Homo sapiens: one gene and its partners. The protein of the gene in region 2 interacts with the protein of the main gene of each other region in a biochemical or structural test. Each region holds a gene or a part of one and is shown on either strand. Other genes may lie near its edges. The genes, in order: RYR3, FKBP1B and TGFBR1.

Region 1 (10,923 bases), on a different chromosome or scaffold from region 2:
CTGAGAAATGTTTTATATACATTACTGCTGTCCTTCAAAATCCATTAGCTTTTTCCCATTAACTTTAGAAATGAGTTTAACTGAAGGGTCCTCCCTGAGCTGCAGAGGACGCTAAAGCATCTCATAACTTTTAAGACTAGCTGATCTTTGGAAGTTCAAAAAAAATAATTAATTTTTTAAAATGGCATTTGCAGCAGCAGTGACTTGCCTGCTTCAGGAAAGAACCTGTGATGTTGAAGAGGAGGACACTGTGACAGCTTTAGCCCACCTTTCACCATCCTTCTGGGTGACATAGGCTGGTCAGTTGTCTTCTTTTGGCTGGGTGCTGGTACCCTACCTCCTGGAGAGCCTTCCTCCACCCTGTGCATAGAAATCCTGATGACCCTGCTCAGCGATCCCAGTCCTGACTCTTGCCCTTAAGAATGCTGCCGCAAAGGAGACAGTATCAGGACTCTGTCCAGAAACCTGAGAGGTTCACACCCAGCCAGCCCCCTTCTCATTCCAGGCGAGACAGTAACGTGTCCTGCCATGCATTTGGTCCCTGACAGTGGGATCGTTGTTATTCCACAGCTGTAGCCATTTTCATTTTTCAATTATGTCAAGAAGAACAGTCCAGCAATATTTATACACTGGCTTTCAGATTCAGAAAGGACTAGAAACCAAAATAATGAGAGAAGGAGTCTCTCAAACAATGTTTCTAGACCTCCCCATTAAATAGTGATAAACAATTTGAACACATTTTTCTGTCCACTTAATATAATCAGTGGCGAATTTGAGAAATAAAATCTACATTCAAGAGATACTCCTCAGTGATTGCCACTCCAGGCACACCAGTCTGAGACACAGGCAGCTATGAGGTTTGGATTTACAAGAGGGGTTAGCTTTCAATTCAGGCCCATTCCTGTGCCATGACCTTCACACATGATTAGAAAAAGAATGTCCATTATTGCAAGGACAAAACAGATCAGCCAGTGATGAAAGGTGCCTCAAATACAAAAGGGAAACTGTCAGTGGCATACCACGGCAGTGCTAAATCTGGGCTGGTTGCGCAATCCATGGGCATGTAAGTTCCTCATTTAGAAGGTAAGCTCCTTGAGGGCAGAGGCCCTCTCCTGTGCTCACTGCCGCCTCCCCATGCATGAAACAGTACCTGGCATCTAGTGAATGCTCACCGAGTATGTGTTGCCAGACTGACCCACGGCTGGGAAATCCCCTTGTAGGCATTTTTTTTTTATTGTTGCCTGACAAGTTACCACAAAATTTAGCAGCTTAAAACAACACACATTATTTCAGAGTTCCGCAGGCTTGACTGGGTACTCAGATTCTCACAAGGCCAAACACAAAGTGTGCCCTGGGCCTGAACCAGGCTCATCTGGAGGCTCTAAGGTGAATCCACTTCTGAGCTTATTCAAGGTATTGGCAGTTCTTTGAGATTATGGGTCTTAGGTCGTAGATTCTGAGGCCCCTGTTTCCTTGCTGGCTATCAGCCAGGGCCACTCTCAGCTCCCAGAGGGCACCCACATTCCTTTACACGTGGCCCCCTCCATTTCAAAGCCAACAAGGGCACGTCCAGTTTTTCTCTCTGATTTTCCCTTCTTCCTCCAGCAGGAAAACTCCTGCCTTTAGAAGCCTCATGCAATTTGAAAAGGCCAACAAGGTCTCCCTATCTTGAGGCCAAATGGTTAGTACAATTGCATTACATCTGCAGAATGCCTTTTGCCGTGCAACATAGCATGATCATAAGAGTAACACCAGGGGTCCCAGAGGGCCTTCTCGAATCCTGCTTACCACACCACCAATTGCCCATTTTTATCCTTATTACACCCTCATGAGCCCACACTTGTGTTTTTTTCTTGTTTTAGTGATCGAAGAGACATTTCCTTTGTTTATCATGTGAGACTATACTCTGCGTGGTGGAAAATAAACCTATCCCAGGGCATCCTAAATGCTCTCAAAGCACTTACTTTCTGCAGGGAGGGTTGAGGAGAGCCCTGGAGTTTGGGCAGTTTATGAAGTTTTCAGGAACCAGTCCTGAGGGACCTGAAAATAAAACTCCCTCTTCAAGCTATGGCTCCCTATACTGGTGTGATTCGACTGAATGCATTTCTCTCTCCCTGTTAGCAGAAACGCATGGGCTTCCTACTGGTCCAGATGAAGTTTCCTCAGCCACAGGAGCTCTGCTCCCTTCAGTTTGCAGTGACTTGAGGCCTACAAGTTGTTCTAGATGTCACATATTGGGCATTTGAGAAATCTGGGAGCCAGCCCAGGGACGACTCCTGCCTTGTAGCTAAAGTCAGAACAACATCAAATCAGAATTTCCTATTCATGTCTCATCACCATGAACTCAGGGTCTGGCACAAAGCAAGTATATAATAGGTACTACATCATTATCTGTTGAAAGTCATTTACAAAGCTTATTTCAGGCAGAGGCAGGCAGTACTAGCAGTCTACTCCAACATTTTGGTTTTACTGGCACTTATCTCTTCATATCGTCCATGGAACATCCAGTATAAATCAAATATTTTTACCTGAAATGTGAGGCCACTTTTGTGTACTAGAAGGATCATGTACTGGATGAAAGTCTGGGGTTTAACCAATCCAGCCTATTTCATCATGAACAAATGATAGCACTAAATCATGCAATCTTCTAAGTCACAGCCATAAAAATGTGTGGTTTTGTAACTCTTATGTCTAAATACATTGAGGAAGTTCATTATTTAAAGAAAACCTGTGACAATTGCTTTGACAAAAAGAAAACTCACTATACTCATTCTCTGTTGTCACATTACAAATTACAAATTTAGCGGCTTAAAATAGCATATATTTATTAGCCCATGATTTCTATGGATCAGGAGTCTGGCCACAGTGTAGCTGGGTCCTCAGTCCAGGGTCTCACAAGGATATTGTTAAGGTGTCAGCCAGGCTGCCTTCTTTTCTAGAGCTCAGTATCTTCTTCCATGCTTACGTGCTTGTTGGCAGAATTCAATTGCTTGCATTTGTAGAACTGAGGTCCTGTTTTCATGCTGGCTGCAGCCAGGGGCCACTCTCCCCGCCTTCCGCCCCCAAGAATTCCTTGTTCCGTGGCCCTCTCGTAAGCCTTCTAACAGTATAGCTGCTCACATCTCCAAGGTCATCTGGAGAAGCTTTCTCTCCAGTCCACCAAGATGAAGTTTTACATAAAATAATCTAGGAAGTGACAGGTCCTTCATCTTTGTCATTCTGTTTGCTGAAAGCAAGACACAAGTTCTAGGGGAATGATGACCCATTGGGGTCACCTTAGGGTATGTCCAGCACACCTGCCATCCCCTCATTTATAGATGGGGAGAGTTGCAAGAATTTCCTAATGTTTATATTTGCTTCAACCTAAAAGGTTTCAGTTGGTGGAATTAAAGTCCCAGTGTGTGAGCAGACTTTATGTAGTCTTCCATCATCCTCCAGTGACTTTCTTGAAAACACTTTAGTAATATGGAATTCAGAGGCTGCTCCTCCATCAAAGGGAGCAAGTAATACCTGGAGCTCCTGATGTGGTACACTGATAAATCTAATGTTTCATCTAAGTGGCAGCTGCAGCACAATCAGTAAATGCCAAACCCTTCAACAGAAGAACTGGAATGCTGAAGAGTGCAAAGGGGGTGGAGAGGATGGAGAGGAGTCCAGAGGAACCCGGGGAGAATTAGGGCTTTGAGAGGGAGACAGTGTCCTTTTGTTATTCCAGTGAGGGACCTCACAGTCTTTGCCTGTAGAGCAGTGTTTCTCAATCAGGGGTACTTTTGCCCTTCACAGAACATTTGGCAATGTTGGGAACCATGTTGGTTGTCATGACTGTGGTGGGGGCAGAGAGTGCTGCTGATGTGCAGTGGGCAGAGGGCAGGGATGCCGCTCAACATCCTACAGTGCATGGGATGGCGCCCACCGCAAAAAGCTACCTGGCCTGAAATGTCGGCAGTGCCAAGGTTGAGAAACCCTACCATGGGATCTCCATGGGCTTGCTTGACTAATGTTGGTTTGCCTGAGTCACCACCCTATCCCAGTTATCATCTCCTATGGGCAGGTGTGGAGAATGATGGTGCTGCCATGTGCCACGTGTCTTTGGGCTCTGTGAAGAGCAAGCACATCACACTGTTCAGTGACCAGCAGCAGGTATGCCTTTGGTGGGGAGTTAGCTTCACACCTACCTGTCCTGTGCACTGGAGGAAGCTACTGGCTACAGGTATCTGAGAGAAAAAATGAAAGGACCTGAGATTATTCAGCCCTGAGTGGAGACACTGTTTAAGGTGTGGAATTGTGACAATCTCCGCTGATAGATAACTGGTCTCTGCGAATTTCTGAGCAGTGGAGAATGACCAGACAGCTAGCAGTCATTGGAATGAGATTGTTGACCAAAACACCCAATGGCTGAGCCAGCTGTGTTGTTTGTCCAGCTCTGGGCAAAGCTTTCGATTTGTTTTGATTTCCAGGTGGAGCCTAATACCAAAGTGTTTCCAGCAGTCTTCCTGCAGCCTACAAGTACTTCTTTGTTTCAGTTTGAACTTGGAAAGCTGAAGGTATTTATTTGTCCTCTCATCTAATGGCCATGACAAGAGAAAGCAGCACTAACCATTAGGGGGAAAATCCCAGGCCTCAGAAGATGGGAGAAGCCTGTTCACTTCCCATAAGCCCCCCACCCCCAGGCCCTGCCCTTTCCTGTGGCATTCAGATGGTAGAATATGCATTCTTATCTTCCCCTTTTCCCACCTCTTTTGGGTGCTGAAAGAATCAATTAATGCTCATATAACCCATTATTTGAAATGCTAATTAATGCTGGTAAAGCCCTTAGAGATCCCTGGATACATTTGTCCCTCTTTAATTTATACTGGCCATATCGGTTAAAATGTCTGGGTGCGTCATCCAGCAACTGTGTGTTTCTTTTCCAATGCCTTTCCCACGTGCCCCAGAACGCAATGCCCCTGTCAGCGGCCATATTCAGGAGTGAAGAGAAGAACCCAGTCCCACAGTGTCCACCTCGGCTGGACGTCCAAACCATCCAGCCCGTGCTCTGGAGCCGCATGCCCAACAGCTTCCTGAAGGTGGAGACCGAGCGTGTGAGCGAGCGCCACGGCTGGGTGGTGCAGTGCCTGGAGCCCCTGCAGATGATGGCGCTCCACATCCCCGAGGAGAACAGGTACCAGAGGGGCCCGCGAAGGAAGGGGCAGGCCTGAGGGGCAGGTGAGGCAGAGCCAAGCCAGCCCAGAAGGAAACCAGGAGCATCTGTGTTGGATCCTGCTCAGTCCCAGTATGACTTGATTTCCCCAGTGCCTCAGTTTCTATTCCTTCCCACTTTCATTACTCAGAAACAGCAGGAAACACACTAGGAGGTGCCTGCCACAGGGCCTTTGTTGCAGCTCCTAGTGCCTGGTATTAAGGAACAGTGCCATGCCTTAAATTAAAAACTAGTTTACCTTGAAATATGCATCATTTATGACAGGAAGGGGAAGACTCTAGCTTGACTTAGAGAATCAGGAATCAGGTTCCTGGTCTCCCCTTGCTAAGAGGTGCTATTAATTATGGCTGGGGTTCAATCCCATTGCTCTCTCTTTCTGGCTTTGTGGCCTTGGGTACATTACTTATGTACTCTGAACATTGCTCTTTTCATCTACACAGTGAGAGAAATGCTCACCCAAAGGGTTTCTGGGAGGAAAATAATGAGATTGTATAAGTATAATCTGGTACAGTTTCTGTACATAGTAAGAAATAAATGTTACGGTTATTGCCATCCCTTGACCTCTTTGAATAAAAAAGCAGAGCAATGGGAAAGGGTTGAGGTATTTGACACCTGCATAGGTCCCATTTAGGTGTCCCATTGGGTCACGAGCAGCAGGGCAGGCCATGGCAGGAAAGGGGCAGAAAAGACCAGGAGCCCAGCCAAGTAAGTCAATTCTGCAGGGTCCTCAAATCCATGAGGAGTCGTGAGACTAAATGAAAAATCTAAGCAGAGATTAGAGCCGAGGCCCTGGACCCACACAAACAAGGGAGCAACATACAAACAGACCTCTAAGTCAAGAAAGAGAGAGCCAACTGGATAATGTTAATTGGTTTCAGGTTGGAAGGTGTTTCCTCTCTGGACAAGAGTGCAGAGTATGTTTGTGAAAACAAAACAAGTATGTTTGTTTTCAGGTCGTTGGAGGAACACCCCATGGATAGTGGTAGATTGGACTTTATACAAATGATACAGATCAGTGGTCCCCAGCCTTTTTGGCACCAGGGACTGGTTTCATGGAAGACAGTTTTTCCACAGACAGTGGTGGGTGAGGCTGGGGGAGGGGGTAGAGGGGATGGTTTCAGGATGAAACTGTTGCACCTCAGATCATCAGGCGTTAGATTCTTATAAGGAGCATGCAGCCTAGATCCCTCGCATGCACGGTTCACAGTAGGGTTTACACTCCTATGAAAATCTATTGCTGGTCCTGGTCCATGGCCCCGGGATTGGGAACCCCTGATGTAGACGGTAGACTGACAGAAAGCATAATCTACATTTTCTGAGGAGATTTTACATTTCTGAGGGAAATGAAACATCTGCTTGATCCTACAAGTAAGACGACCAAGTCATCACTCTCATATATGTGAATGTTTTCTGTTTGGGAATTTCGGATTTTTTCCTAATAATGAAGACTTTCATATTTGGTAAACCAGTGTCTTGCAGGCTTTTGAGAGCCTTGTAGTTAAATACAGTGGAGTACTAGGAACTGGAATACGGACCAGAGCTGAGAGAGGCATGATAAGCCATAAGAGAAACTGTGGCAGAGACCCCTCCAACCTTCCACCCACCCTGCCTTTGTTGGGCTGGATGAAATAGCTGGATTCTGGTGGGTTCTTCTCCCCCTGGTGTGGCTGATTGCTCGTCCTGTCCTCAGGTGTGTGGATATCCTGGAGCTCTGTGAGCAGGAGGACCTGATGCGGTTCCATTACCACACGCTGAGGCTCTACAGCGCGGTGTGCGCCCTGGGAAACAGCCGCGTGGCCTACGCCCTGTGCAGCCACGTGGACCTCTCCCAGCTCTTCTATGCCATTGACAACAAGTACCTCCCCGGCCTCCTTCGATCTGGTTTCTATGACCTGCTCATCAGCATCCACCTGGCCAGCGCCAAGGAGAGGAAGCTGATGATGAAGAACGAGTACATCATCCCCATTACCAGCACCACCAGGAATATCCGCCTCTTCCCGGACGAGTCCAAGAGGCATGGACTGCCTGGGGTGGGCCTGAGAACATGTCTCAAGCCCGGGTTCAGGTTCTCCACCCCTTGCTTTGTTGTGACTGGTGAGGATCACCAAAAGCAGAGCCCCGAGATTCCCTTGGAGAGTCTCAGGACGAAGGCTCTGAGTATGCTGACAGAGGCAGTGCAGTGCAGCGGGGCCCACATCCGAGACCCTGTAGGGGGGTCTGTGGAGTTCCAGTTTGTGCCTGTGCTGAAACTCATTGGAACCCTGCTGGTCATGGGCGTGTTTGATGATGATGATGTTCGGCAGATCCTCCTCCTGATTGATCCCTCTGTGTTTGGGGAGCATAGTGCGGGGACAGAGGAGGGAGCAGAAAAGGAGGAAGTGACCCAGGTGGAGGAGAAGGCTGTGGAGGCTGGGGAGAAGGCCGGCAAGGAGGCTCCTGTCAAAGGCTTGTTGCAGACTCGATTACCCGAATCCGTCAAGCTGCAGGTAAGCTGCAGGTGGTTAAGTGGAGGCAGGTTAATAGATCTTCTGCTTTGATCAAAATATCAGGAACACACTGAGGATTAAAGGAGGTAAGGTATGTCAAGTGCTTGGCATAGTGACTGACCAAGAGTGCTTGATGATTATGGTGCTTGTTGTTGAATAAGTTCTAAAAGTGATAAGATTGGTAATAACAATCCAAAACAACTCATCCCAGAAAAACAGTGCAAAAAACAATGAAAGATGGAGAGAAGGACAAACATCTCTACTTTCCATCCTCCAGGACTGGAACATTTCAGAAAGGGAGGCAGCATTCACGTGCATGATCTGGAGCTGGTTTTTCTACTCAGCTTCCTGGGAAACTATTTTCTTAGAAATATTTTCTCTCTCTCCATAGGCAGATTTCTTCTGTCTTTAGTGAGCTGTTTTCTGTTATTGCCTTCGACTTAATGGTGAAGATTTGAGTAACAGCTTTATGGCTACTGTGTGGCAATTTACTTTGTCTAAGTCTCAGTGCTACTGTCTGTAAAATGGGCATGCTAGCAGCCTCACCAAAGTACACAAAGTGTTATCTATATAATACTTTCATTGCAGATGTGTGAGCTCCTCAGCTATCTCTGCGACTGTGAGCTGCAGCACCGAGTGGAGGCCATTGTGGCATTTGGTGACATTTATGTCTCCAAGCTGCAGGCAAATCAGAAGTTCCGCTACAATGAGCTCATGCAGGCCCTGAACATGTCTGCGGCCCTGACTGCCCGGAAGACCAAGGAGTTCCGCTCACCCCCACAGGAGCAGGTGAGGGTCCTTCCTGAGCCTCTGTCCAGTTCCTATGGAAGAACTTGAGACCTATGGAACAGGGCACATGAAACCTCTATGGTCTCTGGGGCAGCCTCAAGAGCTATGGAAGATGAAAAGACCCACTGCAATACCAGGAGACAGGCCTAGTCCTGAAAGCTAAGGAATATGTGCCAATTCTCTTGGGTAGGAAAATACCCCTTTCTAAACTGCACACGTGGCAGGGCTTCCTCCCTTCTTTAACCCTCTCCAATGCCTCCATTACTGATTCAAAGACCAGACCACTGTTGGGATTCAATTGTCTCCTCAGCAAGGATACACCACTCAGAAGGATTTCTGCCAACCCTTGCAGAAGTCACTACCTGTCTATCAGTTACCAACAGAATAGGGTCAACCTGCCCCTACTTATGAGAGTTGGCACACAGTCTTCTTCTTCTAATGCGTCTAAACCCCCTTGCCGGTGGCACGACTCTCTCACAAAGCCTCCCCAGCTCCATGGAGCCTGGAGAAGGGGACTCAGTGAGTGAGTCATCTTTGTGATTTGTTGTATTCATTCTTTACAGTACCCACCTTGGGGTTAGCCTTACCCCGATGGGAAGGGCTTCTTTAAGAAGAGTCAAGATCCTAGTGAGAAATTTCTAAATGAGGGAGACACATTCTGTAGAATAGGAGTTTCCATTTTCCCCGCTGCTCAGTGGCTCACTTAGACCTTGCAGATGGGTTGACCACTGCTCCCTAAGTGTTCAAAAGAAAAGATAAATCTTTCAGCGAAGGAAGTAGTTTTTGTTTTGAAACCAGATCTTTGGATTATATTTATACACATATATATATAGATATATGTGTGTGTGTGTGTATATATATATATATATATATATATACGTATGTATACATCTGCGAGGGAGATGCAAAATGTAGGTAATCTTTGCATCTCCTCCCCAGGGTTCTTGCAAGGATCACGTGAGATAATTTGTTTGGATTGCTTAGCATGACGCCTGTCATAGAGTAAGCATACATACATGTATATAAAACAAGCAGCCTGTCCATAAAGTGTTGTCAATATAGTTACCACCATTTTATGTTAATGGCAGAACTACAACTCCATCCAATTACTTTCCTAACCTATTTTAAAACGTAGATATCTATATTGGCTTAAAAATGAATGACATATCTTGGCTTTCAAAAGACTCTCTTGAATGATACCAGCCTGGCTAATGAGTGGGTAAAGCTTATCATCCCTTTGCAAAATGAGAAAGCCCTTTGGATTGACTGGAACAGATCATTTGCACCACACAAAATGCACAAGTGTGCTATTTTTCCAAGAATTACTCCTGAAGGCTTTACAAATGTTGTCAGGCTGCTTTTAGACTGGCAATAGATCTGCATATTCCCTATTTCACTGGGCGTATTCTGGCTCTTTCATATGTATTTGTGAATAACAGAAGATACAATGACATGGTGATGGTAACACATGTTGGCCTTGGGCTGTGGGTTCCCAAACTGGCTCCCCCATTGCTCGCTGTGTGGTCTTCCACATGACCTTTCTGTATCTGTTTCTTTAGCTGCAAAATGTGGATAATTTTTGCATCTCCCTCCCAGGGTTCCTGCAAGGATCCCATTTAGATTGCTTTGTGTGATGCCTATCACAGAGTAAGCATTCTGTAAGTACTAAGCGAGCTACTATTACTTTTATTGTTGGAGATATTTGCAATTGCTTCATGACAGGCTCTGTGACCTTCTATCAGTGACCCGATGAGTGGAGTTCACACATGTTTTCTGGCATCTCTTTCTCCCAGCCAAGACTGGGGTTGCCCACCCAACACTGTCCTCGTGGATATAGCTGCTCATGGTTCCACATCTTGGGAAGGACAAGGTTTACTCACACACTTCCTTTCCCCATTCTGCCTCCATACCTTCTGCTGTCTCTTGGGCTACCATTTAGATCCACTGCCAGTCTAAAAGCAGCTTGACAACATTTGTAAAGCCTTCAAGAGTAGTTCCTGACAAAACAGCATACCTGTGCATTTGGCACAGTGCAAATAATCTTTTCCAGTCAATCCAAAAGACTTTCTCATTTTACATCTAGCAAAGGGATGATGAGTATGTACCATCCTTTAGTATTCTAAGCAATCCTCTGATCAATCATTTCAGACTCATTTCAGAAGTCAGTAACTCAAGAAATTCTTCACTAATGTATTAGACCAGTGATTCTTGAGCAAGCATCAGAATCATCTAAAGGGCTTAATAAAACACAGATTGCTTGGTTTCACCCCTAGGGTTTCTTTTTTGTGACAGAGTCTCACTCTGTCATGCAGGCTGGGATGCAGTGGCATGGTATCAGCTTACTGCAACCTCTGCTTCCTGGGTTCAAGTGATTCTCATGCCTCAGCCTCCCAAGTAGCTGGGACTACAGGCATGCACCACCATGACCAACTAATTTTTGTATTTTTA
Region 2 (10,923 bases):
GTTGCAGTGAGCTGAGATTGTGCCATTGCACTCCAGCCTGGGTGACAGAGCAAGACTCTATCTCAAAAAAAAAAAAGAAAAAAAATGCATGTTTGACTATGCCCCTCCCTCAGGCAGAAGATGTTTTAATGATTCTTCCCTCTCCCCCAGGAGGGGCCTTTGGTGCTATGGTCTATTCTCATCTTCCACACTAGAGCTTCATCTCTCACCACCTGTCCTAAGCCCACCACTAACTTTTTCCTCCAGCTTTCCCAAGCTGCCTGCAAGTTGTCAAACACACCACTCGTTCAGCAAATATTTATTGAACGTGTGTGCTAGGCCCTAAGGTGACACAGTTGAAACAGACAGGGTTCCCGCTATTGCTGGACTGAGGGCCTTTGAACATGTTACATGTTGTTCCCTCTTCCCAGATGGTGTTTTTTCACTTCCTCTGGCAAACTCTTACTTGTCTTTCAAGACCTGGCTTCACCATTCTCTCCTCTATGATGTTTTCCTTGACTTCTGTGGTCAGTTAGCTGCTCCCTCCTCCAGGATCCCATAGAGTCCTCTAAATATCGGCTCTGTGGTTAGGCTTCCTTAGGCTTTGTATCCAGCCCCGTAGCTTTAAATTCCAGCCAAATTTATACCTCCAGTGCAGACTCTTCATCTGCCTACTTGCAATATAAACTCAGATGTCTAATAGGCATCTCAAGATTGCCACCCGCACAAATCTGTTCCTCCCGTCTTCCCTATCTCAGGAAATAGTTGCACTATTCATCCAGTTGCCCAAACAGAAAACCCAAGCATCGTTCTTGTTGTCTCCTTTGTCCTCATCCTGGACCCCATTTCCAGTCTGATTGCATGACCTGTCAGCTCCGCTTCGAAAATATGTCTCCAATCTTTCACTCTCTTCTCTGCTGCCACCACCTTAAATCAAGCTATCATTGATTTCTTGTCTGGATTATTGCAACAGACGCCTAACCGTCCATCCTACACATAGCAGCCAGAGTGATGTTATAAAATCTTAATTCAGATTATGTCATTCTCTGGCTTAAAACCCTCCAGTGGTTTCCTATTGCACTTAGTATTAAATCCGGCTCTTCAAGCCCTGCATGATCCATGTCCTTCCCACCTCTCTCCTCCCTCCCTTCTTTCCAGCACCTAGCCTCCTTGCTCACTGCAAATGTGTTGATTCTGTGCACTTGTTACTCCTTTCCCAAGTGCTATTTCCCAGTATTTTGCTCATCCTTCAAGTCCCAGCTCCAGGGGGCACCTTCTCCAAGAGGCCATCCTGGACCACTCTGTCTGAAATGGCCTGTCCCACTGCATCTCCCTTTAATACATCATTGTGTGTATTTTCTTTAGAGTATTCATCATAATCCATAATCATTTTGTATATTTAAGTATTGTCTCTGTCCATTAGAATATAAACTCCAGGGCGGGTTTGGTGGCTCATGCCTATAATCTCAGCACTTTGGGAGGTTGAGGTGGGAGAATCTCTTGAGCTCAGGAGTTCAAGGCCAACCTGGACAACATGTTAAGACCCTGTCTCTACAAATTTTTTTTAAAAAAATTAGCTGGGCATGGCAGCATGCACTTGCAGTACTAGCTACTCAGAAGGCAGAGGAAGAAAGATTGCTTGAGCCCAGGAAAGGTCAAGGCTGCACAGAGCCGAGATCATGCTGTTGCACTCCAGCCTGGGTGACACACTGAGACCCCTACTCTTAAAAAAAAAAAGTAAACTCTAAAAGAACAGGGATAGAGATCTTGTTTGTAGTGTTCACTGCTGTATCCCTGTGATCAGGCACAGGCTTGGCACACCATAGGTACTCAGTAAATATTTGTGGTTTTGTTTTGTTTTGTTTTGTCTGTTTGTTTATTGTGACAGGGTCTTGCTCTGTCACCCAGGGTAGAGTGCAGTAGCATGAACACAGCTCACTGCAGCCTTGACCTCCTGGGCTCAAACAATCCTTCCACTTCAGCTTCTTCAGTAGCTGGGACTATAGGTATGCGGCACCACACCCAGCTAATTGAAAAGATTTTTTTTTTTTTTTTTTTTTTTTAGAGATGGGGTCTCCCTATGTTACCCAGGGTGATCTAGAACTCCTGAGCTCAAGTGATCCTCCCACCTCAGCCTCCCAAAGTGCTGAGATTACAGATGTGAGCCACCATGCCTGGCCTCTCAGCAAATATTTGTAAATTATTGTGTTTATTCATCTTTGATGGATGGATTATAATCTGCATTGTAATCTGGTATTTGTGTGTCTGTTTCCCTACCTTCCTCATGAGTTCATACATTGCTCTGCATGTCTGAAGTCTGGTCCAGGCCTGGCACATAGGAGGCCAACTGTAAATGTCTGTGGAATGGATGATGTGAAGTAAAAGGGGCAATCAAAGAAAGTGGGGGTGGGGTGGTGGGAAAGCCCAGGAGACAGCAGAATTGAGAAAATTGAGGGGGTAAAGTAAATCCAGGCCAGAGAGGTGACGTGATTCATTCTGGCTCGTACAGGGCCCAGAGCCAGAACTAGGGCCACAGGCATCTCCATGGCATGGAGGGGAATGCAGGCTGGAGCTCTTGGTCAGGATCATACTTAATGTCCCAGGTGTTTTTCCAATATCCTACTCCTTCATCTGCCCTCATGTCTCCCTGCAGGAAGGACATTCCCCAAGAAGGGCCAAACGTGTGTGGTGCACTACACAGGTAAGTCTCACCCCCTCAGCCCCCACCCAGTCCTTCCCCTCCCAAGGCAGGGCTGTCCTCTGAGCTTCTCTCCAGAGGTGCCTGCCTCTGGATCAGGGCTAAAGCCCAAGGCAGCAGGGTCTCCCTGTGACCAGCCATCCTCTACTCCTCCCAGCCAGTCTAGTGGGAATGATAAAGGAGGCTTGGAAGGCCAACTCTTTCCCTCTTCTACCAGCAAGGGCCATCCATGGTGCCAGCTTCTAGGTGAGTCAAACACCTTCAGTCCCCTTCCTTCTGTTGCAGGTATGGTGGAGCCCCTGTCCCTGCTGGGTCTGTCTGATATTTGGAAATCCCTCCTAGAGCTCCCCGCAGACTTTCTCTCCATCCTGCAGTATCATTAGAGAAGAAGAGGAGGGGAGAGGACAGACAAGTCACCCAGAGGCTCCGATGCCATTTGAGGGGTGGGGTGATGGCAGTGCTTTTCTCTGGGTACTGAGGGAGCCCAGAGCGGGACTGATCCCAGTTGGATGCTCTTTATCTGCAGGCGAGGTAGAGTGAGTTCTTCAGGACTGCTGGCAGGAAGATCATGAGCAGGTGTTTGTTCCAAGGGAGGTGAGCACCCTGCCTTGTGACCTGCTTCCTAAAGTGGCAAACTCGATGACAGCCACTTAGCAGACAGCAAGCCCAGGTTAATTCCTAGGACATACTCGGATGGGGCCATTTTTAGCAGTTCTGTGGGCCAGTGTGAAGCACAAGGTTAATTCTAGGCAGATGGTGTGGATGTTTTCAGCAGTTGTGTTGCTGGTCGCTGATGTCAGTGGGCTGGACCATGTTTTATCTCCTGGTGATGTGGCCTAATTACCATGGGTCGTCTGGGGCCTCTGACCTGTGTAATTGATTTAACAATTTTGCATGTTGTAGACAGACCAGTATTTATCAAGTTACTGAAACCACAACATCCTTTTGCAAAGTCCTTTCACAATACATACATAGGGCAGCAGCTCCTGTCTTGGGAGAGACTATGTCTTATCAAACATAGCGGGAGACTATGGGACTTTTGGTAAACTTTAAAGTTAAATATAAATATAGTAGAGAACATAATGTAAGATGTCTAGGTCAATGAATTTTTTCAAAGTGATCACATTTATGTGACTACCACCTAGAGAAGCATAGAACATACAAGCATAGAACCAGCATCCCCAAAAGTCCCCCTGATGCCTTCTCCCAGTCATTTCACCTCCCTAGAGGTAGCTATCATTGTTTTTCTTTTTTTTTTTTTTTTTGTCATTGTTGTTGTTGTTTTGAGACAGGGTCTCACTCTGTGACTCAGGCTGAGTGCAGTGGTGATCACAGCTCATTGCAGCCTCGACCTCTCGGGCTCAAGTGACCCTCCTGCTTCAGTGTCCTGACTAGCTGGGACCACAGACATGAGCCACCATGCCTGGCTAATTTTAATTTTTTGTAGAGATGAGGGTCTCACTATGTTGCCCGGGCTGGTCTCGAACGCCTGTATGCAAGTGATCCTTCCACCTTGGCCTCCTAGTGCTGGGATTACAGGTGTGAGCCACTGTGCCTGGCTGGCAACTATTACTCTGACTTTTGTCTCCATGGATTGGTTTTGCCTATTTTTGAACTTCATCTTAATGGAACCACAGCGTAGGTACTCTTTTGTGTTTGGCTTATTTCACTCACTATTATGTCTGCGAGATATATCCAGAATGGTTTATTCCTCTACAGTATTTTAACGTACAAGTATGTTGCAATTTATGTATCCTCTCTACCGTTGATGAACATTTGGGTTGTTCATAGTTTTTGTTTATTACAAACAGTGTCACTTTGATCAGTCTTGCAGGCATCTCTTAGTGTACATGTGTACAGACATATGTGCATGTTTCTGTTGGGTATATACCTGGAAGTGGGGTACCTCCTGGGCTCAGCGTTAGCAGTACTGTCTGACAGCTTTCCAAAGTCGTTGTGCCAGTTTCCACTCTAGGCAGCTGTGTAGGAGACTGCCAGTTACCCTGTGTCCTCCCCAACACTTGTTATTGTCAGGTTTTGGTTTTGTTTTGTTTTTTCTTTTTTTGAGACAGAGTCTATGTTGCCCAGGCTGGAGAGAAATGGCATGATCTTGGCTCACTGCAACCTCTGCCTCCTGGGTTCAAGCGATTCTCCTGCCTTAGCCTCCCGAGTAGCTGGGATTACAGGCGCCCGCCACCATGCCTGGCTAATTTTTGTGTTTCTAGTAGAGACGGTGTTTCACCATATTGGCCAGGCTGATCTCAAACTCCTGACCTCAGGTGATCTGCCTGCCTCGGCCTCTCAAAGTGCTGGGATTACAGGAATGAGCCACCACACCAGGCTTTGTTTTGGTTTTGGCCTACTCTGGTGAGCGTTCAGTACCATTTCATTGTGGGTTTTTTTGTTTTTTTTTTTTGAGACAAGGTCTCACTCTGTTGCCAAGGCTGGAGTGCAGTGGTGCGATCTTGGCTCACTGCAACCCCGCCTCCTGGGTTCAAGCGATTCTTGTGCCTCAACCTCCCAAGTAGCTGGGATTACAGGTGCGCACCACCACACCCAGCTAATTTTTGTATTTTTTGTAGAGATGGGATTTCACCATGTTGGCCAGGCTGGTCACTGTGGTTTTGATTTGTGTTTCCCTGATGATGAATGAAGTTGAGCACCTTTTCATGTGCCTACTGGCCATTTGGATATCCTCTTTAGACTGCTCTAATTTTGTCCATTTTAGAAAATTAGGTTGTCTTTTTCTTTTTCTTTTTTTGAGACAGAGTTTCACTCTTGTTGCTCAGGCTGGAGTGCAATGGCGCAATCTTCACTCCCTGCAACCTACACTTCCCGGGTTCAAGTGATTCTCCTGCCTCAGCCTCCTGAGTAGCTGGGATTACAGGTGTGTGCCACCGTGCCCGGCTAATTTTGAGGTTTTTAGTAGAGACAGGGTTTCGCCATGTTGGCCAGGCTGGTCTCAAACTCCTGACCTCAGGTGATCCACCTGCCTCGGCCTCCCAGAGTACTGGGATTACAGGTGTAAGCCATGGTGCCCGGCCGGTTGTCTTTTTCTTGTTGATTTATAGGAGTTTTGTATATGTTTTGGATATGAGTCTTTTGTTGGTTATATCTATCCCAAACATCTTCTCCCACACTATGGCTTGCCTTTTTACTCTCTTAATAGTATATTTTGAACAGAAGTTCTTTTTTTATAGTTTATATTTTCTTCTTTTCTTTCTTTTTAAAATTTTTTTCTTTCTTTTTTATTTTTGAGATAGGATCTCACTCTGTTACCCAGGCTGGAGTTCAGTGGCTCTAGTCTTCAGGGATCATGGCTCACTGCAGCCTTGACCTCCTGGGTTCAAGGACTCCTCCCATGTCAGCCTCCCAAGTAGCTGGGAGTACAGGAACATGCTACCATGCCTGGCTAATTTTTTTTTGGTTTTTTTTTGTGTGTGTGTGATGGAGTTTTGCTATCGTTGCCCAGGCTGGAGTGCAATGGCACGATTTCAGCTCACCACAACCTCTGCCTCCCAGGTTCAAGCAATTCTCCTGCCTCAGTCTTCCGAGTAGCTGGGATTTCAGGCATGCGCCACCACGCCTGGACAATTTTGTATTTTTAGTAGAGACTGGGTTTCTCCATGTTGGTCAGGCTGGTCTCGAACTCCCTACCTCAGGTGATCTGCTCGCCTCGGCCTCCCAAAGTGCTGGGATTACAGGCGTGAGCCACCGGGCCCGGCCACCTGGCTAATTTTTAGTTTTTCTGTAGAGAGGAAGGTCTCCCTATGTTGCCCAGGATGGTCTCAAACTCCTGGGCTCAAGTGATCCTCCTACCTTGGCCTCCCAAAGTGCTAGTATTACAGGTGTGAGCCACTGTACCTGGCCTGAACAGAAGTTCCTAATTTTGATGAAGTCTGACTTATCAATCTTTCCCTTTATGGTTAGTGCTTTCTGTGTTCAGTTTAAGAAATCTTTGTCTGTCAGGCCAGGTGCGGTGGCTCCTGCCTATAATCCCAGCACTTTGGGAGGCCAAGGCAGGTGGATCACCTGAGGTCAGGAGTTCGAGACCAGCCTTGCCAACATGGTGAAACCCTGTCTCTACTAAAAATACAAAAATTAGCCAGGCATGGTGGTGCATGCCTGTAATCCCAGCTACTCGGGAGGCTGAGACAGGAGAATTACTTGAACAACCCAGGAGGCGGAGGTTGCAGTGAGCTGAGATTGAGCCGCTGCACTCCAGCCTGGGTGACAGAGATGAGACTCTGTCTCAGGAAAAAAAAAAAAAAAATTGTCTCTAGGTCATGAAGATATCCTTCTATTTGTTATCTTGTAGAAGCTTTATTATTCTATCTTTCATATTTAGGTTTATGATTCATCTGGAATTGATTTTTTTGTGTGTGGATTTGGTAGGGGTTAAAGTTCATTTTTTCCCCATATGAATATACTGTTGACTCAACAACCTTAATGCAAGAAAAAAAAACCTTTATTTGCTGCATTGCAGTGGTATCTTTGTCCAATCAAATCACCATGTAAGTGGGTCTGTTTCTAGACTGCATGGTTTTGGCTTAACTTGTAGCAATAGATAAATGAAGTTATTTATCCAAAGTAGATTAAGTCACATGAAACCTGAAGAAACTAAGGAATGAGAAAGGAAAGTCGGTATATAAATGGAGTGTGTGAATGTGTGCATGTGTGTTTGCATATCTGTGTGCATATTTGTACAAGTATGTATCTGTGTGAATGTATGTAGATCTGTGTATGTAAATATTTTCTTAGCATCTATTTGGCCACCAGGGCTTTTCTCCTGAGTGTGAGTGCATAAGTGCATGTGAGCATGCACAAGTATCTTTGTGTATTTGAATATCTTAGCAACCTTAGCAAATGCATGCGATTGTATTTGATCTTGTTAGCATCCATCTGCATGTACCTCTGTGTAGCCAGAAGGGTTTTCTTCTTTGCCTCAGTTAGTACCCAGGGCAAAAGCTTAATGTATTCTACTCAGAAAGTAGTTAAATAAGACTGTTTCTCTAATATATATTTTAGTTGTAGGAATTAGGAAGTAGCATCATAGATGCTCCTACACTAAGCTGGCCCTGCTTCCTATGTTAAATATGACACATCTGAGGCCCTGGGAGAGGAAGTGATTTGCCCAGTCTCACACAATGAGTTAGAGCCAGAGTGAAGTCAAAACCCAGTCTCTGGATGTACAAGCAAGGTCTTTTTCTAGTCCCAAATGGCCTTTTGTGGTGGTCCAGGGACTGCCGGGAGCAGTCGTGGAACTGCATCATTTACAGAAGGTCTGATCTTTGAGTCAGAGTCACAGAAGAATTGAGAATAGCTGTTGGGCCTTGGGCTGCTGGACTGAGATGACATGTGGACATCAGGATGACAAGGCTTCTGAAGCAGAGGCTGGGGGAACCAGAACTGCTGGACCAGCACCTGGGGGGGGGTTCTGGTTTCAAACAGCCCTCTTAGTACAGAGTCTGGAGGCCACCTCTGACCAGCTAGGTCACCTTACACTGTTCCCTACAGTAGGGGATAATGTAACCTTTGGGTTTTCCCTTTTGGGGGAAACTTAGGAAACCTTAGGAACCTTATGCGAGGACTCAACCTGAGGCTGGAATAGCTGGGAAAACAGAACTTTAGGTGGAGGAAGTGGCATAAAAAAGTTGAAAAGTCTGGCTGGGCATGATAGCTCACACCTGTAATCCCAGCACTTTGGGAGGCTGAGGTGGGCAGATCACCTGAGGTCAGGAGTTCGAGACCAGCCTGGCCAACATAGCAAAACCCCATCTCTACTAAAAATATAAAAAAATTAGCAGGCATAGTGGCAGGTACCTGTAGTCCCAGCTACTCAGGAAGCTGAGGCAGGAGAATCCCTTGAACCCGGGAGGCGGAGGTTGCAGTGAACCGAGATCACACCACTGCACTCCAGCCTGGGCAACAGAGGGAGACTCCGACTCAAAAAAAAAAAAAAAAAAAAAAAAGTTGAAAAGTGCAGAGGAATTTGAGAAAGGTATGACCTGAAAAGGACACAGAGGGAAGGGAAGGAAGGGGAGAACAGAGAGGGTTATAAGCAGGCCAGAGCCGGATTGTGAAGTGCCTGTATGCAAGGTAGGCATTTGGATTCTGCTCTGGGGAGCTATTGAAGTATTTTGAGCAGGGGAGTAATAGAATCAGATTTGTGTTTAAAGAAAAAAAAAAATCAGTCTGGATGCCAAGTGGACAATGAAATGGAGGCGAGTAAAAGAGGATCAAAAAGACCAGTTAGGAGGTTGTTCCTGTGTACAGGTGAGATAAGCTGGTGACTTGGTCGTGGTAATAGAAACAAAGAAAAGGCCAGGCACAGTGGCTCATGCTTGTAATCCCAGCACTTTGGGAGGCCAAGGTGGGTGGATCACCTGCAGTTCAGGAGTTCAAGACCAGCCTAGCCAATATGGCAAAACCCTGTTTCTACTAAAAATACAAAAATCAGCTGAGTGTGGTGGTGGGCGCCTGTAATGCCAGCTACCTGGGAGGCTGAGGCAGAAGAATCGATTGAACCCAGGAGATGGAGGTTGCAGTGAGCCGAGATTGTGCCACTGCACTCCAGCCTGGGTGACAAATTGAGATTCTGTCTCAAATAAATAAATAAATAAATAAAAATAGAAATGAAGAAAATAGGTGGATTCCAAAGATATGGAGGACTTAGTGATAGGCAGTATGTGGGGGTGAGGCAGAAGGAAGTGTCCAGATTTCCTGCTTGGGCAACAGGATGGATGGGGAGGATCGGAAGAGGAGCAGGTGTGTGCAGAAAAGGCATTCCATTTTAGACATGTGGAATCTGAATTGGGAGTTTACTCATGACCACAGCTCTATTGCACCCGATTCTTGCTTTGACAGGAATGCTCCAAAATGGGAAGAAGTTTGATTCATCCAGAGACAGAAACAAACCTTTCAAGTTCAGAATTGGCAAACAGGAAGTCATCAAAGGTTTTGAAGAGGGTGCAGCCCAGGTAGGATGAGGATTCGCATTAAAGGGGATCTGGGGAGTTGGGGATCTGGGATCAGCACTCTGCCCTCCACCTCCACCTTCACCCACTCACAGACCACTACTGCTTTGACTCTACAGCCAGGGCATGGCAACGCCATCTGGTGTCCCCTCCTGGCTTTGCGTCCCCACCCCTCTCCTTGCCAGCATACCTCTTTTGTGTCCCTGGGGGCTCTCATCCCAAGCACATCCCCCTAGGCTTGCTCAGAACTAGCTGAGAGAGCCAGGCACGGTGGCTCACACCTGTAATCCCAGCACTTTGGGAGGCCGAATGGGGTGGATCAGTTGAGGCCAGGAGTTCAAGACTAGCCTCACCAACATGGTGTAACCCCGTCCCTGCTGAAAATACAGGCGTGGTGGTGCATGCCTGTAATCCCAGCTACTTGGGAGGCTGCGACAGGAGAATTACTTGAACCGGGGAGGTGAAGGTTGCAGTGAGCAGAGATTGTGCCACTGTACTCCAGCCCAGGCGATGGAGTGAGACTGTCTCAAAAAAACAAAACAAAAAAATAAACTAGCTGAGGTCTACCAGTTGCCTGGGACTGAGGTAGTGGAAGAGTTGGGGTGGAGTAGGCCAAGAAAATTTTTCGTTTTTTCGCTTTTTTGAAAAGAATTTCAGAATTACAAAAATATTAAAGAAATAGTACAGAGTTCTTCTATATTCTATCCAGCTTCCCCTTCTTGCATAACCATAGTACAATTATCAAAACCAGGACATTCACACTGATACAAATTACTTACTTATTCAAATTTTTGATTATTCAAAATTCAAAAGTAGATTTAAATTTCACCAATTGTCCCACTAATGCTGAGTGGGTTCTCAACAACTGCTGTGATGAGCCCTGGTTCAAGCTGTTCTTTCTTGGTCTGTCTGTGAAGTCCTATGATGCTCCCTTACGATAGGTCTTGTTTTTGGTGTTTTTTTTTAGAAAGAGTATCACTCTGTCACCAAGGCTGGACTGCAGTGGCGCAATCTTGGCTCACTGCAAGCTCCGCGTCCTGGGTTCACGCCATTCTTCTGCCTCAGCCTCCCTAGTAGCTGGGACTACAGGCGCCCGCCACCACGGCCGGCTAATTTTTTTGTATTTTTAGTAGAGACGGGGTTTCACCGTTGTTAGCCAAGATGGTCTCGGTCTCCTGACCTCGTGATCTGCCCGCCTCAGCCTCCCAAAGTGGTGCGAGCCACCGTGCCCGGCCTGTTTTTTGTTTTTTATTTATTTATTTATTTTGA
Region 3 (10,923 bases), on a different chromosome or scaffold from region 2:
TGTTGATAAAAACACTTCAAGTGGTTTGTTAAGACTTTTAAATGAGATGTACTATCCTTTGAAAAGTATGAGTCATCTTCAAATAAGGGCTAAATTCATGAATAAAGTGAAAATTTGTAAAGCGTATATAATGAAAATTTCACTAATTTTGGTGAAAGCCCATCTCTATTAAAAATGCAAAAAAATTAGCCGGGCGTAGTGGCATGCGCCTGTAGTCCCAGCTACTCGGGAGGCCGAGACAGGAGAATCACCTGAACCTGGGGGGTGGAGGTTGCAGTTAGCTGAGATCGCACCACTGCACTCCAGCCTGGGAAACAGACTCCATCTAAAAAAAAAAAAAAAAAAAAATTTTCACTAATTTTATAATTGAGTGATATTAAAGGAATGTTAAAGCAGAAGTTGTGACTGGGTAAGAATATAATTCTGAAGCATAAAATCACATCTAATGTTGCAGAAAGCTCATATAATGACAAATGTCTATTTATTTTAAGGAAATGAATATATATTGGTATGTATGCATATCCATTCATTTAAGAATGAAGAAACTGATTTTATTACCTGAATTATTCTTCTATAGAATTTGGCCATATGTATTCAATAAGAGAGCTCTCTCCTTGACTACTAGGACACACACAGGCTCGCACTGGAGCTCACGTCCCAGAAGGCAAGCTTAGGGATTCCTGAAACAGTTGTGCAAGGAAGACAATGAGAGTTTGGACTTAGATGAAGCAGTCTTAGTACTGAAGGTGTGATAGTCTTTAGGCAGGCCTGGTGGACAGAGGTTATTTTAGAGCTTTCCTGGGACTTCCCATTTATTCTCAGTTCAGATCTTCAAAAAGATTTTGCTCATTCTGGAAGTCATCCTGCTCAAAACTGTGATAATCAAGGACCAGAGTCACAGAAAATCAGGATGGCTACAGATATTTGGAATTAATCCCTCAAACCTGTTCTCTTGTTTCTAAACTTATACTCCGGAAAGACACAGCACTCATGCCACTTGCCACAGTGGAATAAGCCCACCTAACTGATTAAAGGAATTGGTGGGTGGGTGGCAGTTGATTACTGGATAAGAATATCTTCATTAACCTTTTAAGATATAAACATGAGAAACAATGGAATAATTCTGTTTCCATTATATATATATATATATATATATATATATATATATATATATATATATATATTTCTAGATCCATGAGGGACCATAGCTCTCTGTTCTCTGAAAGCTTCTCTCCCTCCTTTGATGCCTTACCCTGCAAAAACTTGTCTGCATTGCTTGCTAGCTCTGTGGCTTTGGGCAGTTAACCAATGTCTCATGCTTGAGTTATTTCATCTTTAAAATGAAAGTGATGGATTCTGTGCACATCATTGGATTGTTGTGAGTTCAAGCAAGACAAAATGTTTGCATGAAAGCACTTGGTAAATTGTAGAGTTATGTCCAAATGACAAGTGTTACTCTTATTGAAAACATACTTGGAGGAAAAATCTAACATACAGTATCAGTTGACCACATTGTACAAAACTTAGTTTAAGGCCTCCTTTGCCTGTCATAGTTCATTGTGTACTGAATTCCCTCCAAACCTATCCAGGCAGAAGCCATCTTCTGGTGAATAATAGCAGAAAATGCCATCTGTTTCCCTTCTATTCATTATAAATCCTTAATGCCACCTTAGGCATGAGACTAGTGCCTGTGAATAAGTAAACTGTGTGTTTGTAATACTCTGTTTTTAGTTCTTTCATTAATTGAGGAAAAGGTATAAGCATTTCACATTCTGAATTCATATGTTTATTACTTAGTACCGTGACCATAATTAAGGAAAGGCCCTGTCTCTACCTCTAAAGACTGTGCTTTTAACTTGGGAACTTCAGGGAATACAATGAAGAGCTGGGTTCTGGCAGCTGTACGCCAAGTGTGTGAGTGTGCACATGTGCATATGTGCCAGCTTTTGTAAGTGAGTCTTCTAGGCCAGTGTTTGTTATGGCGTGTGCAGCTTATGAGCTCTTGTAATATATGCATGTTGTTCGGGTCTTATTTCCTGTTCACTGCATGTAAAGCTGTGGAGTCCCTGTTTCCCTTTTGAAGTTTTCTCTCAAACAGTTCTAAAGGTACAGAAGAGTAGAGCAGAGAATATAGAGATCTAAATTAGGCCTATTCAGTTTTGTCTTTAGAAGAAAATTGTTACTTTTTTTTTTTTTTTTTTTGGAGACGGAGTTTCACTCTGTTGCCCAGGCTGGAGTGCAGTGGTGGGATCTCAGCTCTCTGCAGCCTTCACCTCCCGGGTTCAAGCAATTCTCCTGCCTCAGCCTCCTGAGTAGCTGGGATTACAGGTGTGCACCACCATGCCCAGCTAATTTTTGTATATTTATTAGAGACCAGGTTTCACCATGTTGGCCAGGCTGATCTTGAACTCCTGATCTCTAGTGATCCAACCACGTCGGCCTCCTAAAGTGCTGGGATTAGAGGTGTGAGTCACTGTGCCTGGCCAATTGTTAACTTTTTAAAAATGCTCAACTATTCATGTGAAGTAATCCAATATAGATAATACAGTGGATCAAGATTTGCTTTTTAATTTTAATTGACATCTAGAATCCAGTGATAAAGGGGAAGACAAAACCTTTCCTCGTCCTGTTGGCCTTTCTTGACCATACCATTTACACAAGTCCTGAACCTGTCAGGTGTTTTCAGAATTTGTGTTTGTGATTCCTTTTTCTTTTTTATTACTTGTCTTTGCAATTTCCAGATTAGTCTCCTGAAATTAACTCTTAAGTGTACTTTTAAGTCTGTGGTGTGGCCCTCTACAAGGCTTTCATAAAATGTAATAAATTAGTATCTACACTAAACAACATAATTAGAATTGATTATACATAGTGCGAAAGAGCTCTATGATTTAAATAAGGATTTCTGACAGATCTGTTTCTAACTAGCAGCCTCCTTATAAACACAAACAGTTATTTATAGTTATACTGCTAACTACTTTACAGGAGGTGGGGAGGGTAGAGCAAGAGGAAGAAAGGACCCGTTTGAGAAACTTAAGAAGAAGAGCTTCTGATCGCTTTAAAGATTTAACGTTTGGATTTATAAGCATTTCACATCAGGGAACCAAAGAGAGCAGATAATTTCATTTACTGTCATTGGGTTAATTTGATCTAGTAAGCAGCTTTGAGTATAGATTATAAATGACACCAATTTATATGTACATAGATTGTATAAATAAGATATGAGTGAGGAACATGATGTACACTGGCATTTTCTTTGTTAGTGTCAATGTAATTTAAAATGACACTTACCGGATGGTGGATAGGATATTAAGTGATGGTCTCACATATAGTGCCACTTAAATGTTGCAGGTAAGTTAGTAAACCCTTTTAAATGAAGTAAGTATGGCAATACTTAAAAATACATATTTTGGAGAAAGCCAAGTTCCATTAGTGGAAAAACAGTGCTCCATTACCAAGGTAAGTTACTTAGCCTTGTTCTTCAAGATACTAGTGTTGTCTATGTAGCCAGTTGTCAGCAAGTAAATTGCTTTCCTTGAAATAGTTTCTGTGGTGATTTTTACTGACTTATCAAAAAGCCAGAATTTACTTCTGTGTTTCTGCGTTCACATCCTTTTTTCCTCCCATCAGTGAAACTGTTACGAGATTCATCTTTCTAAAATAAGATTTTAAAATTATCTTGCTTCCAGCCATGGCCCTTTTTCTCAGAAATCTTTAAAGGTTCCTCTTTTACCTAAAGCTCTTCATTGGTTATTTTGAGCTTGGTATTCAGTACTCTTCATCTTCTGGTGACAGCTTACTTTCTCTTTTCACTGCTTTGCCACATATATCCTCTCTCTGATTGCCCAAGCTGCTTCCCTAAAAATGTGTCATTCATTTCCCTCTACCTTTGCCTGCACATTCTTCCTGCCTAACCACCGTACTTAAGGGATAGTCAAAATTCAACTTACTTTTACAAAGCCTACCTTGACCCTCTAGCAGGAGTTTCTGGATTCTTTTATTATATTTATTATCTTATTTTCCTTTTTTAATTAGTTATTTTATTGCAAATATAATATCTCCCCAGTGAGATAAATTCCTAAAGGGATAGCTTAAAGTATCAGTTTTCTGGGTCACTCATTAGTGCCTATCATGATGTTTGAAACATGTAATATTGTTGATTGTGTTGAGTACTATTTATTTTTACCTTTAGGTTTACCATTGCTTGTTCAGAGAACAATTGCGAGAACTATTGTGTTACAAGAAAGCATTGGCAAAGGTCGATTTGGAGAAGTTTGGAGAGGAAAGTGGCGGGGAGAAGAAGTTGCTGTTAAGATATTCTCCTCTAGAGAAGAACGTTCGTGGTTCCGTGAGGCAGAGATTTATCAAACTGTAATGTTACGTCATGAAAACATCCTGGGATTTATAGCAGCAGACAATAAAGGTCTGTAACATTTGCTTTTCCTTATGTTATATATAACAAGATCTCTTTAAGTCTTTACAGATATGGTGACTAACCATCATCAAAGTAGATGAGACATAGATGTCTCTCATGTAGATTAGACCCATTAAGTCGAATACAATATATTAGTAACTTTTAGAACTAGGAACTTCTTCAAGATTTTCTTGACTCTTGATAGCATTCCTAAAATCTCTTAATGTTTTATAAAATATAAAAGAGCTATTTTAAAAAGCCATGTACTTTGTTGGTTTAGTTTAGGGCAGTTAGTTATTGAGAGTACTCATGATATAGAAAAGATATATAAACTTGCTCAAAATTTTGAGAATAGGGCTCAGATAGCTGTTTCCTTTTAATCTCTTCCTGACCAGTAGGATGTTTCAATATGGACTATTGACCTTATTAATGGGGAGAGTAAAAATAACTTGTCAGTGTTCTGAGTTGCCAAGGGCTAAATAGATGAATCTTCTGGCAAACTCAAAGAGATAAATTGTTTCTTCAACCACCCTGGTAACTGTACGGACACTTTTCTGCCTATCATGCTGGTGCCTGAGGCCCAGTGTCAGGTCAGATGCTGAAGAAGGAAGGAAGCCTGTCAGCAGGGAGTCAGAATGAGTGGGGACTGCAAGCAGTGACCTTAGACTGTGCTGCTGCCACTTTCTTAGCTTCCGTTAATACCTTTATGCCCATGATTCCTACTTTTTTTTTTTTTGAGATGGAATCTCGCTCTGTAGCCAGGCTGGAGTACAGTGGTGCAATCTCGGCTCACTGCAGCTTCTGCCTCCTGGGTTCAAGTGGTTCTCCTGCCTCAGCTTCTCGAGTAGCTGGGACTACAGGCGTGCACCACCATGCCCAGCTAATGTTTGTATTTTTAGTAGAGATGGGGTTTCACCATGTTGGCCAGGTTGGCCTCCATCTCTTGACCTCGTGATCCACCCACCTCACCCTCCCAAAGTGCTGGGATTACAGGCATGAGCCACTGTGCCCAGCCCCCACGATTCCTATTTTTACTGCCTCTGTCAGAGACTTGTGTTTCAGCTCCACTCTTGTCATCCCTACCCCTGAATCAAATGTATTTCCCAGCTTTCCTATTTAAAAAAAAAAAAAAATGCTGTCATTATCTCTTAGCTTGGCCAGACCTGTAGTCATCTTTTTCCTTCTCCCACCTTCCATTTACTTCAGCAATATTTATTTATTCAAATATTAACAGTGTTTAACCTCAGTTGGTAATTATGGGTGATTTTTATTATTTTTCTTTTAGCTTCTCTGGGTTTTCAAATTTATTTACAAGCATGTACTGCTTTTTTTTGTTATTGACTTTTATTTGTAGAAAATTTCCAATATGTAGAAAAGCAGAGTAGTTACAGTGATCCCTCATCGTCCAGCTTCAACAGTTGTCAGGTCACTGCCAATCATAATTGATGTCTGATCCCACCTACTCTGCCCTAACTGTGTTATTTGAAGCTGGTCCCAGACAATATGTTTTCATCTGTAAACACTTATAAAATGTAATTTGTATCTTCAAATGATGAGGAAATGTTTTTATGAAACAACCACACTACCATTGTCAGTTTTTTAAATGTTATCAAATATCCAGTTAGGTTCAATTCTATAATTGTCTCCTATTAAAAAAATTATTTATTCAAATTATGATTCTAAGTCCACAAGTTATATTTAGTTGATATTTCTCTTATGTGTCTTAAAATTTAGGTCCCCCCTTCATCTTTTTTCTCCTCTCGCAGCTTATTTGTTGAAGAAATTGGATTGTTTATCCTGAAGGGCCTATCACATTCTGGATTTTGCTGATTGCATTTCCATAGTGTCTCTTAACTTGTTCTTCTATCTTTTCTGAAAACTGGTAGTTAGATTTAGAAGCTAAACCTAATTGGAGTTTTATTGGTTTTCTCAAAATACATACTAAGGATATTATATACATCCTATTGCATCATATGTGGAGGTGTATAGTGTTTGATTAAGACGGGGCAGTGAGGTATATGATGAATGTAGGTAGCGATTATCAGTGGCACCTGACAATGTAATACCTCTTAAGTTAAAAACAAAACAGGCCGGGCACAGTGGCTCACGCCTGTAATCCCAGCACTTTGGGAAGCCAAGGTGGGTGGATCACGAGGTCAAGAGTTCAAGACCAGCCTGGCTGGCCAAGATGATGAAACCCCATCTCTACTAAAAATACAAAAAAATTAGCCAGGCATGATGGCAGGTGCCTATAATCCCAGCTACTTGGGAAGCTAAGGCAGAGAATTGCTTGAACCTGGGAGGTGGAGGTTGCAGTCAGAGCTGAGATCGCACCACTGCACTCCAGCCTGGGCGACACAGGGAGACTCTGTCTCAAAAAAAAAACAACAACAAAACAAAACAAAACAAAAAATAGTAATCAGTCTGACCAAATCCTTAGTTCTCATTTTCGTTTCTGCCTTTATCACCATTTATTTCCTCCCCCAACTCTTAAAACAACCTTTTCTTTATTTACTGTGTTTGATGACCCTAGACTTTCCTTGTTCCTTCTTACTTCTTCATAGTTGTCTTTGTTTTCTCAACTCTTACTCTTCTCACTGGTTCATATGAAGGTACTGATTTTATAAGTGGTAATTTCTTCCTTAAGAACATAGCCACATTCATGGTTTCAAACTCTACCATGTTGGCAACTCTCAAATCTCCATTTGAAAGCTTAAACCTCACCCAGGGTCTGGATTTTGTCACATTCCAAGTTACAAACACAGCAGCACAAAATGTTGGTGAGTCTGTGCCCTGAACTTCTAACCAGGCTGATGCTGTCATCTGGTGGTCACCATGGGAACTAGCTGACCCTACTGGCTCTTCCCTACTCCCCTTCTTTCTTCTTTGTCAGGGGTTAATGTACTTTCTCTGAGCCTAGCCCCTCCACCTCAGTTCCTTTATCTTCTCCTGATTTAGTTAATTCCACCCCCGGCAGCCCTTTATATTTATGGCCCCTTACATATAACCTTCCTTCTATCTTGTCCATAACCTGTGGTTTCCCTTTCTTCCATCTGCCTGTCTTCCACTTTGTTTCTTGTATTTGTGAGCTTTTCAAAATTCAGTAATGGTTAAGAGGCATGCAAATAAGCTAGTGATGTGCCTATATCAAGGAAAAGCAAGGGTGCGAGTTTGGTCAGAATCAGTTTATAAAGTTCATGAAGAACAAATTAATACTAAGTCCTTTTAAATGTACCCAGAAATCTCCTCCAGAATCTTCTGAAAAGTTTCTATTCCTTTCTTAATCTCTTCTAATCAGAGTTGGTTTTCTTCTTCAACCAAATACCTTCAAAATAGAAGCTGTTTCATGTCAATATGGATTTTTTCTTTTGGTTTACAACCAGCAGGGAAAGAAAGAGCACAGTTTATGTACTTCTTACCTAAAGAATCTAGCATTCCGTTTTTTAAATCTTAACAGTCTTACAAAGTAAGACTTTATTCTTGTATAAAAGGAGAAACAGGCTCCTTGTCAGTAACAGGCAGGCCGTGGATTCCAACCAGGTTAGAATGACTCTAAGCGTCCATCTTTTACTGGATTGTGCTGTCTCCTAATGTTGTAATGCTTTTTTTCTTCATGGCTTAATTAAGCATGTGGTTTTCCAGCTACTTCTAGGTTAAATTAGATTGTCGTGGACCAGTCTAGCTTAGGAGCCTAGCTAGTGTCTTTACCATTATTCCTATGAGAAAACATGTTTTAAACTCGTGTTTTGGCTTACAGAGGAAATTTTGGAACCCACGTTCCTCGTTGTTTGAGTTTAGTCCCAGCTTTTCCAGTTTTGCTCCTGACATTTCAGTTCCTATTTCAGCTTCCCCATGTGTTAGAGGTATCACTATTTCTGTTTTTCTAAGCTAGCAACCTTGGAATCATAATCATCTTGTCTTGCGTCTTTGTGAACTGTGTACACAATCTGTCACTAAAGCTTGTCATTTCTTGTTGAAACTCACTTTCAGTTTTGTCCCATACTCTTCCATTCCCACTGTGGCCACACTGGTCTCCGGAGACTTCTCACCTCCTTGCTTCCCTCTCTGTTCCTTCCTTTTTTTTAACCTTCTCTCCTTCCAGGAACAGCCACTGAGCACCCAACCCGACCCAGAGATTTTTCTAGGCACTTAAGAGTGCCAGCTCTGATACCAATTATCTGTGAAGACTCAAAAAAGTCACCATCTTTGTCTCTTAAATGGGATTAATTATACTTGCCTTATCTCAAGAAGAGGGGCTTACTCTGAGGAACTAAAGGATGTGTACATAAAAGTATAAAACAAACAATGTAGAAGAAAATGTGAAGGAAATACAGACTTAAGGTGGCATTATATTGCAGTGTGTGACTCAGGATTGAGAGTAAAAAGTAATAACCATTGAACAAATAAATCATAAATGGTCTGCAGCCCAACCGAAATGTTAATTCTGTTTTACAGACAATGGTACTTGGACTCAGCTCTGGTTGGTGTCAGATTATCATGAGCATGGATCCCTTTTTGATTACTTAAACAGATACACAGTTACTGTGGAAGGAATGATAAAACTTGCTCTGTCCACGGCGAGCGGTCTTGCCCATCTTCACATGGAGATTGTTGGTACCCAAGGTAATTCTATAAGCAGTTCTATTATTTAAGCTTTAAATTTTCATGAATAATGTCTATGAAAATAGAAGGTGGAGGCTGGGCCTGGTGGCTCATGCCTATAATCCCAGCACTTTGGGAGGCTGAGGTGGGCAGATCGCCCGATCTCAGGAGTTCATGGCCAGCCTGGGCAACATGACAAAACCGCATCTCTACCAACATACAAAAAATTAGTCGGGCATGGTGGCATGCACCTGTAGTCCCAGCTACTCAGGGGGCTGAGGTAGGAGGATTACCTGAGCCTGGGAGGTCGAAGCTGCAGTGAGCAGACATCATGCCACTGCACTCCCAGCTGAGTAATAGAGAGAGACCCTGTCTCAGAAAAAAAAACAAAAACAAAAACAGTAGGTGGCCTAACTGGAGATATTTAAAACAAATTTTTTAGATGAGAACATTTTATCTTTCAGTTCAAAATTTCAGGTAGAGCTAGGAATCTGGAAATTTGTTTAGAGATTCTCTAGTCGTTGTAACAAAACTGTGATTTTTTTTGAGTTCTTAAAAGTAGCATTCAATCTTATGATTTTTGAGGATCTCAGTTTCAGAATTCAGGTCCAACTGAATATATTTTTATGTGTAGTATCAAATGAAATGTGAAAGTGCTTTGTAAACATCAACATGCTAGGTAACTGTTATCTGGCCATCTAATAATTATATTTGACCTTGAGATAAGGAGACTGCATGAGATAGTTTTACAGTTGAAAAATTAAATACTAAGTTTTAGTTATGACATTTGTATGCTGTAGTTTTTGTGCATGTGGGATTTCAGATGCCAGTATATCTCTCTGCTCTAGCAGTTGTCCACTTGCAACCCAATGGCTCCCCCACTCCCCACTTTACATACAGCATAAGTGCTAGTTCACATCTTAGCTCCATCTTTGTAGTTATTATTATTATTGATTGTAACAGTTTTATTGAGTTATAATTCACATCATAAAGTTCACCCACTTAAAGTGTAAAATTCAGTGGTTTTTAGAATACTCAGAGTTGTACAGCCAGCAAACACTACAGTCAATTTTAGAATATCTTCACTCCAAAGAGAAACCCTGTAGCCACTAGCAGTCACTCCCCTTTCCTCCCAAACTCCTTAGCCCTAGGCAACAACTGCTCCTTTTTGTCTGTAGATTTGCTTATTCTGCACATTTTATATAAATGAATCATACAATATGTGGTCTTTTGTGACTGGCTTCTTTCACTTAGCATGTTTTCAAGGTTCATTTATGTTGTAGCACGTATGAGTACTTCAGTCATTTTGATGGCTAAGTAATACTTCAGTGTATGGATATGGCATATGTCATATATCCGTTCGTTGATGGACATTTGGTTTGTTTCTTTTGGCCATTGTAGCTAATGCTGCAGTGAACATTTGTGTACAAGTTGTATGTAGTTTCATGTTTTCAGTTATCTTGGGTATATACCTAGGAGTTGAATTACTGTATCATATGATAACTCTATTTAATGGTTTGAAGAACTGCCATACTATTTTCTTAAAGTGCCTGAACCATTTTACATTCCTGCCAGCAGTGTATGAAGGTTCCAGGTTTTCCACATTATAATTATTATTTTTTAATAACATTTTCTAGTGGTTAGCATCAAAGATAATATACTTAATACTGAGTACATTGCAGTTGATAGGGAAGTGATGTTCTACATGCTTGGTTCCTGGGCTGCTGGAATATCAGTCTATGGCTAAGTTTCTTAAAAAGAATTCATAAGGCACCAACAGATAAACTGATAACTTTTTTTTTGCCCCAGTCTTTGAGTTGTTCATCTTTTAAAGCATGTTATTGTCCACATTTTCTTTAAAGAAATATAAATTCAGTGACTTTTGGTGTAGTGATTCACTTGAGTTTAAT

What was found.
Region 1: the proteins of FKBP1B (region 2) and RYR3 form a complex in vitro, tested with the Homo sapiens proteins (one study listed by BioGRID).
Region 3: the proteins of FKBP1B (region 2) and TGFBR1 form a complex in vitro, tested with the Homo sapiens proteins (one study listed by BioGRID).

What each region holds. Positions count from the first base shown.
Region 1 is NC_000015.10:33,655,263-33,666,185, forward strand, and holds part of RYR3 (ryanodine receptor 3), read left to right. Parts: intron 1-4,457; coding exon 4,458-4,544; intron 4,545-4,934; coding exon 4,935-5,161; intron 5,162-6,890; coding exon 6,891-7,686; intron 7,687-8,274; coding exon 8,275-8,475; intron 8,476-10,923. UniProt on the Homo sapiens protein: Cytosolic calcium-activated calcium channel that mediates the release of Ca(2+) from the sarcoplasmic reticulum into the cytoplasm in muscle and thereby plays a role in triggering muscle contraction. May regulate Ca(2+) release by other calcium channels.
Region 2 is NC_000002.12:24,051,270-24,062,192, forward strand, and holds part of FKBP1B (peptidyl-prolyl cis-trans isomerase FKBP1B), read left to right. Parts: intron 1-2,632; coding exon 2,633-2,680; intron 2,681-2,834; exon of another isoform or gene 2,835-2,923; intron 2,924-3,203; exon of another isoform or gene 3,204-3,347; intron 3,348-9,544; coding exon 9,545-9,657; intron 9,658-10,923. UniProt on the Homo sapiens protein: Has the potential to contribute to the immunosuppressive and toxic effects of FK506 and rapamycin. PPIases accelerate the folding of proteins. It catalyzes the cis-trans isomerization of proline imidic peptide bonds in oligopeptides.
Region 3 is NC_000009.12:99,133,670-99,144,592, forward strand, and holds part of TGFBR1 (TGF-beta receptor type-1 isoform 1 precursor), read left to right. Parts: intron 1-4,189; coding exon 4,190-4,420; intron 4,421-8,866; coding exon 8,867-9,034; intron 9,035-10,923. UniProt on the Homo sapiens protein: Transmembrane serine/threonine kinase forming with the TGF-beta type II serine/threonine kinase receptor, TGFBR2, the non-promiscuous receptor for the TGF-beta cytokines TGFB1, TGFB2 and TGFB3.